3 separate regions of the Homo sapiens genome follow, and all the other regions are reported to be linked to region 3. Evidence: microRNA targets listed by miRTarBase, many of them from high-throughput screens and not tested one by one. Region 3 holds a microRNA gene; each other region holds the end of a gene's coding sequence.

Region 1 (4,000 bases), not on the chromosome of region 3:
GAAAAATGGGCATTTAGCAATGCAGAGTAAGAGCGCTCTAAAGGACAGAAAAAGATGTAAATGGGGAAGATTTATATCAAGGCATTAAATTTTGGTTTTAAAATGAATATAAGCTGAGACAAATAGGTACCAAGAAACTTCACCAGTTGGAAGGTTAATCTGTAGTGAAAAGTCTGTATCATACAATACTTTTAAAGAACATTTTTATTACTTTCAAGTTTATACAGTAATCTGGCACAAGCTATTGCCAGCATTCCTGCCAAGTACAAATGCTTGGACCTCCCCTTAATCAACAGATAAAATACATAACTTACATTTAAGGGGAGTGGATACCTCAAAGTGCTTAAGTAAAAATTTGTTCTCTTTAATAGTTTGAACTGTCCCTTGTTAGTCGTGTCTAAAACATTGACCTGAATAATGAGAAATCACAAGCTAATGTTTTACTTATTCCTTATATGGTAAGAGACTACCTTTTAAAGCACCATTTTCCATTTGGCATTTCACCAAGGTCTAATGTCCCTGGAATTAGTTTTTTTGTTTTGCCTTTTGAATATCGATAGGTGTTCATCTGAATTAAACTACGTTTAGTTTGATGGCTTCCTGCCTCCAAATTGGCAACAGTGTACCTCACTTTGTATGGGAGCTATCAGGATCTCCATAGGTTGCAAAGTAGATGACCATTACCTTGGGGTTGGGGCAAATCAGTGAACAAGTCTCGGCAAGGTACTGGCATTTGTATTTTTAAAAAAATCTCTAGCCATTTTGTTCTTGGTGTAAAAGTAGAATGGCTGAAGTATGGCAGCTGAGTAATAACTGTTCTTCTTAGCATGATGTAGTGCTTAGCATGTCTCTATGGGTCCAACTTTGAACATTATTAAGAACTGGTTTGTCTTGTTTTGCTATAACTGATATGAAAAATGGTTTGGGTGGGGCATGGTGGCTCACACTCTTACAGAGGCAGAGGCAGGAGGATAGCTTGAGCCCAGGATTTCGAGACCTGCCCAGGCAATATAACACCATTTGCCAAAAAAAAAAAAAAAAAAAGAAAAAAGTGGTTTGAATATTCATATTTCTTCCTGGCCATTACTGATTTTCAATTAATTTATGCATAAATGAGACCCAAACTATCACTAATTTTCAGCTATATGAATTGATAGCCACTTGACATCAGTGAAAGGTACAGTAGGGAGTAGATGAAATTGTATTTTTAATGAAAAGGCTTTGATGGGAGATTCAAGATTTTTGGTTTTTTTTTTTTTTTTTGAGACAGGGTCTTGCCCTGTCACCCAGGCTCGAGTGCACTGGAGTGATCACAGCTCACTGGCCTCAAGTGATCCTCCTGCCTTGGCCCCTTAAGTGCCAGGGTTACAGGCATGAGCTACCATGCCTGGCAGAAATTCAAGATTTGGATAAACTTACTTCTTTGCCAAGCCTGTTCTTCAAGTTATTCAGAACTGGGTGTATACCTTGTCCTCATATGTATCTTGTCCCTGCTGTCTTTTAGGTTAGCAAGGTGTATGAATACTTTTAAGTTTTGTTTGTTCTTTTCCTCGTGGTATCAGTGAAATACTGATCTATTCTCTGGCTAGGGTCAATTTACAAAATTGCCATGGAACTGAGCAAAAGGCCCACGTGGGATAAAAATCACTCACCATCGACGCCACCAGTATTTTTCAAGTTATGGCTTTTGAAGTATAACAAATTTCAGTAAACAAAATCAAAAGAAAAAATTCCTCTGCGTACAACAAAGAAGCACCTGTTATATTTTGAATGCATTCTTCATGTTGCCAGCTTTCTAAACTTGTTTTTTTGATGCCTCAACAGACAGAAGTGAAAATTATATGCCACTCTTAAGTACATCCAGGTTCTCCTCTACATATTCCCAATATGGAATGCTGGCTAGCAATCATGGCACTCTCTCAGAAACCAGCCACTGGAAGTTAAAACTTCTGGATTTCAAAAGCTAGTACAGGCTGCTAAATTTAACAAAGGAACAAACCTTCATAAATGGTACAAACTACCTGCCCAACACACTCTTCTATTTTCCAGACCCTTTAATATTGAGTAGTCTAGTCTTGGATTGACTATGGTGGGTTAGGTCTAATCTAAGTATCTTAATAGCTATCTAGGGATAATGAATAAAATTAAATACAACTGGTACCTCAAGTATCATAAGAGAATAAATTTATGAAGACAAGCAGACCAAAGCAACTCAAGATTTTCTACACCTGACTACTGTAGCTGTAACTTCAAATAATGTGTTACCTATGAAACTTATTATGTACGAATTAGTTCTTAAAGACAGAAATGATGGAAACATGTAAAAAAAAAAAAACAACAGTAAGTGTTCAAACAGATCCCTGTTTTGTTATAAAGAACTGGAGCTCTAGGTGGCATCTAGTGGATATTTTAATAGCAATAAAAATAAAAAATTGGGTGATATTCCAACTAAATAAAAAATGCAGCTGCTTTTTAAAATTTAAAAACATACTTTACCACCCTGAATTATAAACTCAAGGCAAGTAGCTTATTATTCCAATAAGGACGTGGTGTGATAAATTCTCTCACACAGGTTGTCATCAATCTCAAATAGATAAAAGGCACAGAACCGATCTAATTCTTTCAATGCATTTTAAGGCTTTGTCCCGCTAAGGGTCAACTTTCACTGTGGTTAAAGTTAAATTTATTTTCTCTAAAACTCTTCTTTTGAAAGGATCTGTTATAGAGATCCTTTATTCACCTGCTCCTACAGTTCCACATCAAGACTAAAATAAAGATAAAAGAATTAGGGTCTTAGTATTAAAATGCTTTTAACTGGTGACAAGAAGGAAGAAGCCTATAGTTAAATATCCCAGAAATTTATTTGATGTTTGCTTGAATACATTTTATATAGAAAGATTGGGATTGTTTGCCTTGGATGCCCCTGGCAAATCTCGTGAGGCATTGAACTAGAAAGGGGTGCCAATCTGGAGACATCAGAAATGGAAATCACAAGCCCAATTTTAGAACTATTCTTAAAGATTTGTCTCTAGTGAAATGAGGCCACTCCCTTAAAAATGCTCAAAGTGTTGGAGCTACTGTGTGACAACAGCTGACATTTAGGAGGGCATTTCATGTTCTGATCTGTTAGAACATTTAAATACTTAGAAATAAAAAATATTCAGCTTTGAAGTTTTCAATACTGGAAAACTTTCAAGTCTAGGATTTACAGCCAGGAAGCGCTGCTCTGTGTTCCTTAAATTGGACTCTGTTTCCCACAAAGTTAATCTTCAGCTTTGGCTTCCATTTCTTCTGCATCATCATCTCCATCCACTTCGGCATTTTCTCTTTCAAGCCTCTCCATCTGCCTCGCAAGTTCAGTCTCATCTGTATCTGTGACCACTTTGGGCTGTGGAAGCAGAGGTATAATTTCAAACTGAAGTAGTAAATACTATACAAATTTAATTTCAATACTATTACTGCCTAATGTTTTCTCTCTTTAACACTTTTCTAACAACTCTGTCATATCTGTTCACTTTTGAGTGACTTATCAGCAATAAATTCCATTACATAAATAAGAGGTGAAACTTATGAGAATAGTATAGAAAAAGGATGTATGTATTAAAATGGAAAATTATTTTCTGTCATTTTTATAAGCTAAAACTGAAAACATGAAATAACCCCAATGGCTGTATCTTTCAAGACCACAAATAGATATCCTGTTAAAAAAACCTGTCTTCCAGGCTCAAACTACTACTTACTAGCTTACTAGTCCTTTCCATAGAAGGAACCATAACACACACACACACACACACGCACGCACGCACGTACACACACTTCTTTCTTGTTGGACAAGGAAAAGACAGGAGACAACTTTTTTTTTCTCCAATTCTGAGATCAAATTTTAGACATGCCACATGCAAATTCAAACCATAAAAAAACTTCTCATTTATATTGTTTATTCCCTTCCCCCTGGCTGGGGACGGGGGGTGACCCTAACACCATTAGTGATCAAAGGCCT
Region 2 (4,000 bases), not on the chromosome of region 3:
TGCAAGGGAAGCGTGTGTGTGTGTTGCATACATATCCGTCCACCCATCTGTACATACATGTGTTTTGCCTGGAAAGCTTATCAAGTCCCATTGATAAGTGGGGAGGAAATAGCAACATGAACGGTAAAATCCAATTTGTGAAAAAACAAAATGGAATGTTCGTAAATCACATCCATTGCGTAAACGCATGAAGAATGGACAGCGTGCTGTTGAGGATCATGTCTGGGGAGAGGAGCGTTGAAGTTGAGCTTATGCTGTGCAGTCTGTTCTGAATGGTTTTTTATGATGACAATATAGTCATGTGTTGCTTATGTAAAGATGAGTAAAAATAAAAGGAAAACATTTATCTTAACAGATGCATGTTCCTGGTCATTCGGGATTTATAGGCAATGAAGAAGCTGACAGATTAGCCAGAGAAGGAGCTAAACAATCGGAAGACTGAGCCATGTGACTTTAGTCCTTGGGAGAACTTGAGCCAGCGGCTGTCTTGCTGCCTGTACTTACTGGTGTGGAAAATAGCCTGCAGGTAGGACCATTGCAGTGATGGGCAGATGCGTCTTTCACACGGAATCAGGCACAGTGGCCTTCTGTGACATGTGTTTATAAAAAATGGTTAAGTATATAATAAATTGAACATCTTTGAGATTGGAGAATTATGTGAGATTTCCACATTATGTTTACTGGGTTCAATACTGTCCTTGCTTGTTTTATTGCAGGCAAGCAAGGCAAATGGCCTAAAATGCTGTGGCTTATATTTTGATAAGAAATCAAAAAACCATTGGTTAAAAGATGCAACTCAGAAGTCTGGAAGTATTCTGAAAGCATCCATTTACCGTCCAGTTGACAGGTTTGAGTCTCCTGCTTGTATAGGTGACTTGTGCCCATGGGTACATTAAAGGAACATGCTGCCCAGGGCCTGGGCGGACAGCTCAGTGGGCAGGATGTGTGCTGGGTCTCAGCCCCATGTGCCTGCTTGCTGGGCAGTTAGTATAGGGCAAAGCCTGCCTGCGGCGACCCTGGCTGCTAGGCCATTCTCTAGGAACAGCTGCGACTCATAAAGACCAAGAAGCATAAATAAACTTTCAAAAATTTATTTGGCTCTTTCGTTAAAAACTGTGCAAATTAAAAAAAAAAAAAAAAAAGTAAGACACCGGCTGGGCACAGTGGCTCACTTCTGTAATCCTAGCACTTTGGGAGGCCAAGGCGGGCAGATCACTTGAGGTCAGGAGTTTGAGACCAGCTTGGCCAACATGACGAAACCCTGTCTCTACTAAAATTACAAAAATTATCCAGGTGTGGTGGCACGGGCTTGTAGTCCCAGCTACTTGGGAGGCTGAGGCACAAGAATCACTTGAACCCAGGCGGCAGAGGTTGCAGTGAGCCAAGATTGCACCACTGCACTCCATCCTGGGCAACAGAGTGAGACTCTGTCTCAAAAAAAAAAAAAAGTAGTAAAAGTTTGACATGATTATTTATTTAGTTTTAAACCTTTTTATTATAAAAACATACAGGAAGTGACACAAAACAAATGTATAGCTTATTGAATGATTATGATTGTAAGGTGAATAACCTTTGTGTCCACCACCTGGTGAAGAAATAGTACTTTGCCAGATACCCCAGGAGGCTCTCCCAAGTGCCCCTCCAGCCACAGCCCTCTTCTTCTCCCCCTCCTTGCCCCAACAAGTAATCCTGACTTTTACAGAAATGACTTTCTTGGTTTTTTGATGGCAGTTTAGTCTTGTCTGCTTTTTTTTGTTTATTTTTTTATCTACTTCAGTGTCCATTTGCAGTCCCGTCGGCCTCACTGTTTTCCCTGCCGTTTATCTGTTGAAGAGCCTGGGCTGTTTGTCCCATGGCTTCCCACAGTGTAGATTTTGCTGACCACGTGGTCATGGTGTAGTTCAGCATGGTCCTCTATGTTTCCTGCACATTGGCAGCTGGGTCCAGAGGCTTGATGAGCCTCAAATTTGATCCCTTTGGCAGGAGAACAGGCGGTTAGGAGCTTTCCTCAGGAAAGTACCATGTTGACGGCAGCTGATGCTCAGTGCCAAGATCCATTAATTATTTGGGGTTGCAAAATGGTGGTATTCTCATTCTGTCGTTTTGCTTGCCTTTATTAGCTGGAATGGTTTTCTAAGAAAGTGTTTTCTTTTTTATACTTATCTGGTTACCCAGTGGTACAGTTCATATAGGAAGGGCAGGATAAATGCTTGATTCTTTGCTCTTGTACACTAAGTTTTTAAGATAATGCATTAGTTGTCTGTCAAGGAAGGTGAGTGGTGAAGGGTTTTTACATATATACAAGAATTCATGGGCTGGGCATGGTGTCTTATGCCTGTAATCCCAGCACTTTGGGAGGCTGAGGCTGGAGGATCACATGAACCCAGGAGTTTGAGACTAGTCTGGGCAACATAGTGACACCCTGTCTCTACAGAAAATTAAAATAAAATCAGGTGGGTGTGGTAGTGCCTGCCTGTTGTCCCAGCTATTCTGGAGGCTGAGATGGGAGGATCGCTTGGGCCCAGGAGGTCGAGGATGCGTGAGCTGTGACCATGCCACCACATTCCAGCCTGGGCGACAGCAAGTCCTTGTCTTAAAAAAAAAAAAGAATTTGTGGAGTTAAGCATACTTGGTGGGTTTCAATCCGTTGTGATTTTTATCTTTATTTAGCTCAGACTAGCTTATTCGGTCAGTGAGAGGGAGCCTCTTCAGCTTGGCTCTTGCTTTCTTTTGATAAGTGTGCACATGTGTGCATACATGTGTGCACAGACCACACGCACAGTCATTGATAGCTCCCTGCAGCCTGGCATGTCAAGATGCTCTAGGCCCAATTTATAGAGCTTCTGCTCCAAACCTGTCTTAAAAGAAAAACTTTAGACAAGTTAGCAGTTTAATTGAGCAGAAAATAGTTTCTTCAGCTGGGTAGCACTCAGGACCAAAAGTGGTTCAGAACGTTCTCCTGTGCGTTGTGTGCAGGCTGTATTTATTTATAGCCACAGGAAGGGAAAGACACATGTACATGGCCAGACTGACTGCAGGTCAGCCTCCACCTCACATAGGCATGTTTTGGGAGCCTTCAGCATGTGATTGGTGAGACTCTGCTGCTTGTTACAGAAGTGTACTCTCAAGTCAGGTCCCAGTTTGCTTATACATTAAGTGAGGTTATAAGTCACTATGTACAGAGGCAGTTTTAGGCCAAACTTAATTCCGTTTAACACTTGGAATCCATTATTTTTCCCAGAGTCTCTGGTAGAGATGGTATTTCAGATCCAGTTTAGGATGCTCATTGCTATTGCGTTGGTCATTATTTCTAGATTTTTGGACGGAGCTTTAAAAAAATACAAACATTGCACACACATATTTAAAGGAAGAATATTTTCTGAGCCTATATTGATATTCCCAATACAAATTCAGGGTCCTGGGGCCTTTACATAGCCTCCTCTATATGATGTCTGTGTCTCCTGCACTCGGAATCCTGCTTCTCAAGACACAGGACAATGGCATGGAATATCCATCCCTTAATCACTCACTTGTTTTATTCCTCTTTAGCATTTAGCATTTAAAAAAAATACTAATACCATAGCATTAATTGTGATGATGAAAACAGCACTGTGTCTACGTTGTCAGAAAAATTGCTCCTTTTTACCACCATTGACTCATTTCTGTGTGTTCAGGTCTCATAACCAGTCTATAGTCAGTGTCATCTTGGGGACAGTATTCCTTGAGTTTCTGATGTTGAATTCAGTTTTGCTGGATACGAAATTCTTGGCCCAGATTTTCTTTGAGTATCTTGTTTTATTCTGTTTTCTTCCAGCATAAAGTGATGCATGAAAAGCCTGATGAATCTTGTTTTCTTCCCCTGACAGTCATATGCTGTTTTTCCTTAGATGCCCAAAGGATTTTTTCCTTTTTCTGTCAAGTCGGCCGTTTTATTCGAATGTGTCATGTGTTGGTATTGGTTGTCCTGGTCCATATTTGCAAGCGTATGGTGTGCTCTTTC
Region 3 (4,467 bases):
AGCTGGAATCACAGGCACCCGTCACCACGCCCGGTTACTTTTGTATTTTTTTTTTCACCATGTTGGCCAGGCTGGTCTGAAACCCCTGACTTCATGTGAGCCGCCCGCCTCAGCCACCCAAAGTGGTGGGATTACAGGCATAAGCCACTGCGCCCGGCCAACAATGTATATTTTTCAACATGGGAGATTCAGTTTTGAATGCTCCCATCGGGACTGTGTGTCCCTGTGCTGGAACTCAAGTGAACGCTTGGCTCAAAATCCATTGCTGTTCTCTAGAAATCCAGCCCAATTCTCTTGGTTAAATGTAAGGTATGTGTAGTAGGCAATGCTTTTTCTGGAGACAGAACTCAGGAGGATTGTCCCTCGATGATCTAGGCTAACCTGCTGAGACTTTGAAGCAAGGAACTGGAGATGGTCCTTTTAGGGTTTTATGTTCTGGATTCCAGAAAACATGCAAACAGGGCCAATAAATGCATCCTCATTTTTGTGTCCATTTTAACCTGGTGAAGGAAAATTCCAACAAAAAACCCACAGTGCTGGAGCAAGAAGAGCTCAGGCTGTGACCCTCTAGAGGGAAGCACTTTCTGTTGCTTGAAAGAAGAGAAAGCGCTTCCTTTTAGAGGATTACTCTTTGAGAAAAACAACATTGAAGTTAATGCTGATCTTGGAGATCATGCTTATAATCAGACTTGGATGATGTTGGGGTTTTGTGGGGTTTTTTTGGTTTTTTTTCCTAAGACAGGGTGTCTGTTGCCCAGGCTGGAGTATGGTGGCCCCTCCAACCTAGATCTCTTGGGTTCAAGTGGCCCTCTTTTTTGGGACAGAGTCTTGCTCTGTGACCCTGGCTGGAGCTCAGTATCAGGAACTTTGCTCACTGCAACCTCTGCCTCCCAGGTTCAAATGATTCTCCTGCCTCAGCCTCCCGAGCAGCTGGGATTACAGGCATATGCCACCACGCCCAGCTAATTTTTGTATTATTGTTATGTATTTATTTTTTAACTTATTCATTTTAGAGACAGAGTCTCACTCTGTCGCCCAGGCTGGAGTGCAGTGGTGCGATCTCGGCTCACTGCAACCTCCAACTCCCAGCTCAGCCTCCTGAATAGCTGTCTGCAGGCATACACCACCACACCTGGCTAACTTTTGGTTTTTTTGTACAGATGTGGTTTCCCCATGTTGCCCAGGTTGGTCTCGAACTCCTTAGCTCAGGTGATCTTCCACCTTGGCCTCCTAAAGTGCTAGGATTAGTGGTGTGAGCTGTTGTGCCCCACCTATACTCGTCTGTTTCTGCTCAGATTTTATTGAGGAGCGTTTACAGGGTAGCCTGTTGTCTACCCTGCAGGATGTTTGTGCCTACAACAGTGTATATTCTTCAACATCTTAGATTCCATTTCGGATGCCCCCATGAGGACTGTGCGCTCCTGTACTGGAACTCAAGCGACCACTTGGCTCAAAATCCATTGCTATTCTCTAGAAATCCAGCCCAATTCTCTTGGTTAAAGATAAGGTATGTGTAGTAGGCATTGCCTTTTCTCTTTGGGAACAAAACTCAGGAGGATTGCCCGTTGATGAACAAGGCTAACCTGCTGATTCTTTGAAGCAAAGAACTGCAGATGGTCCTTTTAGGGATTTATGCTCTGGATTCCAGAAAACATGCAAACAGGGCAAATAAATGCATCTTTATTTTTGCGTCCATTTTAACCTGGTCAAGGAAGATTCCCACAAAAAATCCACAGTGCCAGAGCAAGAAGATCTCAGGCTGTCGTCCTCTAGAGGGAAGCACTTTCTGTTGTCTGAAAGAAAAGAAAGTGCTTCCTTTTAGAGGGTTACCGTTTGAGAAAAGCAACATTGAAGTTGATGCTGATCTTGGTAATACATTTTCAGAGCATGCTTATCATCAGAGATGGATGATGGTGGGCTTCTGTTTTTGTTTTGATTTTTTCTTTTTTTTTTTTTTGAGATGGAGTTTCGTTCTTGCTGCCCAAGCACTAGTATGTAGGAATTATTCTTTATGTGAGCATATAGTACATGGAACTTTGTTTTTTTGAGACAGGGTCTCCAAAATATATACATGTTATCATATAATCTTCTATGTATAATTATATTCACACAAAATAGTCTTCTGCACACAGAGAATACTCTTATATCACTTTGGGGTTGTTTTTGTTTGTGTATTTTTTTTTTTTTTAATTTTTTTTGAGACACCATCTGGCTCTATTGCCCAGGCTGGAGTGCAGTGTTGTGACCTCAACTCACTGCAGCCTCTACCTCCCACCTCAGCCTCCTGAATTAGTGTCTACAGGCATGAACCACTACACCTGGCTATCTTTTGTATTTTTACAGATGAGGTTTTACTATGTTGGGCAGGCTAGTTTTGAACTCGAGCTCATGTAATTTTCCCGCCTTCGACTCCTAAAGTGCTGGGATTAGAGGTGTAAGCCACTGCACTCCACCCGTACTTCTGTACAAATGTTATTGAGGAGCTTTTACGGCCTAGGCAGTGCTCTATCCTGGAGAATGTTTGTGTGTAAGACAATGCATATTCTTTTTTTCTTTCCTGTCACCCAGGCTGGAGTGCATTGGCACGATCTCGTCTCACTGCAACCTCCGCCTCCCGGGTTCAAGCAATTCTCCTGCCTCAGCCTCCTGAGTAGCTGGGATTACAGGTGGGCACCACCACGCCTGGCAAATTTAGATTCCATTTTGGATGCTCCCATCATGACTGTGTGTCCCTGTGCTGGAACTCAAGTGACCATGTGACTCAATCCATTGCTGTTCTCTAGAAATCCACCTCAATTCTCTTGGTTAAAGGTAAGGTATGTGTAGTGGGCATTGCTTTTTCTCCTTGGAGACAAAACTTAGGAGGATTCCCCTTGATGAACAAGGCTAATCTGCTGAGCCTGGAGATTGTCCTTTTAGAGGTTTATGTTCTGGATTCCAGAAAACGGTCAAACAGCGAATAAATGCATCTTTATATTTGTGTCCATCTTAACCTGGTCAAGGAAAATTTCAACAAAAATCCCAGATGGCTGGAGCGAGAAGATCTCATGCTGTGACTCTCTGGAGGGAAGCACTTTCTGTTGTCTGAAAGAAAACAAAGCGCTTCTCTTTAGAGTGTTACGGTTTGAGAAAAGCAACGTTGAAGTTGATGCTGATCTTGGTAATACATTCGCAGAGCATGCTTATCAGGCTTGGATGACGGCAGGGTTCTGTTTTGGTTTTATTTTTTTCCAAGACCAGTCTCTGTTGCCCAGGCTGGAGAGGGAGGGGTTGCACTCCAAACTAGATCTCTTGGGGTCATGTCTTGCTCTATTATTATTATTAATTCTTATTTTTGTGTGTGTGTGAGACGGAGTCTCGCTCTGTCACCAGGTTGGAGTCCAGTGGCGGAATCTCAGCTCACTGCAACCTCCGACTCCGTGGTTCAAGCGATTCTCCTGCCTCAGCCTCCTGAGTAGCTGGGATTACAGGCACGCACCGCCATGCCGAGCTAATTTTTGTATTTTTAGTAGAGACCGGGTTTCACCACGTTGGCCAGGATGGTCTCAAACTCCTGACCTCATGATCCACCCGCCTCGGCCTCCCAAAGTGCTGGGATTACAGGTGTGAGCCTCCGTGCCCAGCCTGTTATTTTATTTTGTTTTATTTTATTTATTTTATTTTATTTTGAGATGGAGACTGGCTCTGTCGCCCAGGCTGGAATGCAGTGGCAGGATCTCCACTCACTGTAACTCCCACCTCTGTCGCCCAGGCTGGAGTGCAGTGGCAGGATCTCCACTCACCGTGGAGTTCCAGTGATTCTTTCACCTTAGCCTCGCAAATAGCTGGTATTACAAGCACCCACCAACACACCCTGCCAATTTTTGTATTTTTAGACAAGAAAGGGTTTCGCCATGTTGGCCAGGCTGGTCTCGACTCCTGACCTTAAGTGATCCACCTCCCTGGCCTCCCAAAGTGCTGGGATTACAGGCGTGAGCCACCACGTCCAGCCTCAAGTGGTCTTCTTGTCAGCCTCGCAAGTAGTTGGGCTCAGGTTTTAATTTTTGGTAGAGATGGGGTCTCTTTTGCCTGGGATGGTCTCAGCTGAGCTTAAGTGATCCTAAATGTGTGAGCCACCTTGTCCCATTTCAAAGATAGGTGACACGGCCAGGCATCCTGGGACACACAGGGTCCCAGTTACTGCAAAGGCTAGGGTGGGAGGGTCCTTTGATTTTAAGGCTATACCATGCACTGATCACACCTTTGAATAGCCACTGCACTCCGGCCTGGGCCACATAGCAAGATCCCATCTCTTTAAAAACGCAGATTACATGCCATCTGGTTCCTGAGGCTCCATTTGGGTTGGTCACTTCAAATACAGGCCTTTCATCAGTTTAGTTTAATCAATCCAAACCATGTTTCCTTCATTAGGAGAGTAAGGGCCAGGTGTGTAATCCAAGCACTTTGGGAGACTGAAGCAGGCGGATC

What was found. The annotated mature microRNA hsa-miR-520f-3p reads AAGUGCUUCCUUUUAGAGGGUU and lies in region 3 at 1,807-1,828, shown strand. An mRNA with a match to its seed (bases 2 to 7 or 8) in the 3' UTR can be bound and repressed. Matches are read on the target gene's strand: a 7mer-m8 pairs with bases 2 to 8, a 7mer-A1 pairs with bases 2 to 7 and ends in A, and an 8mer does both.
Region 1: the mRNA of EIF2S1 is a reported target of hsa-miR-520f-3p. Seed matches in the 3' UTR shown: 8mer at 834-841 and 7mer-m8 at 339-345.
Region 2: miRTarBase lists RNASEH1 as a target of hsa-miR-520f-3p. The part of its 3' UTR that is shown has no 7-base or 8-base seed match.

The regions. Positions count from the first base shown.
Region 1 is chr14:67,382,703-67,386,702 of GRCh38, reverse strand. It overlaps EIF2S1 (eukaryotic translation initiation factor 2 subunit alpha), which reads right to left. Exons shown (of 8, transcript NM_004094.5): 8 at 187-3,388. The coding sequence ends at 3,263. It also overlaps a transcript of GPHN not described here. Among named protein-coding and RNA genes, the nearest start is that of EIF2S1, 24 kb to the right of the region's middle.
Region 2 is chr2:3,542,227-3,546,226 of GRCh38, reverse strand. It overlaps RNASEH1 (ribonuclease H1), which reads left to right. Exons shown (of 8, transcript NM_002936.6): 8 at 356-4,000. The coding sequence ends at 442. Among named protein-coding and RNA genes, the nearest start is that of RNASEH1, 14 kb to the left of the region's middle.
Region 3 is chr19:53,705,701-53,710,167 of GRCh38, forward strand. MIR520C (microRNA 520c) reads left to right here and starts at 1,753; the gene lies at 1,753-1,839. MIR526A1 (microRNA 526a-1) reads left to right here and starts at 552; the gene lies at 552-636. MIR518C (microRNA 518c) reads left to right here and starts at 3,035; the gene lies at 3,035-3,135. LOC107985346 (a long non-coding RNA gene) reads left to right here. Exons shown (of 5, transcript XR_001753998.1): 4 at 1,385-1,507; 5 at 2,569-2,609.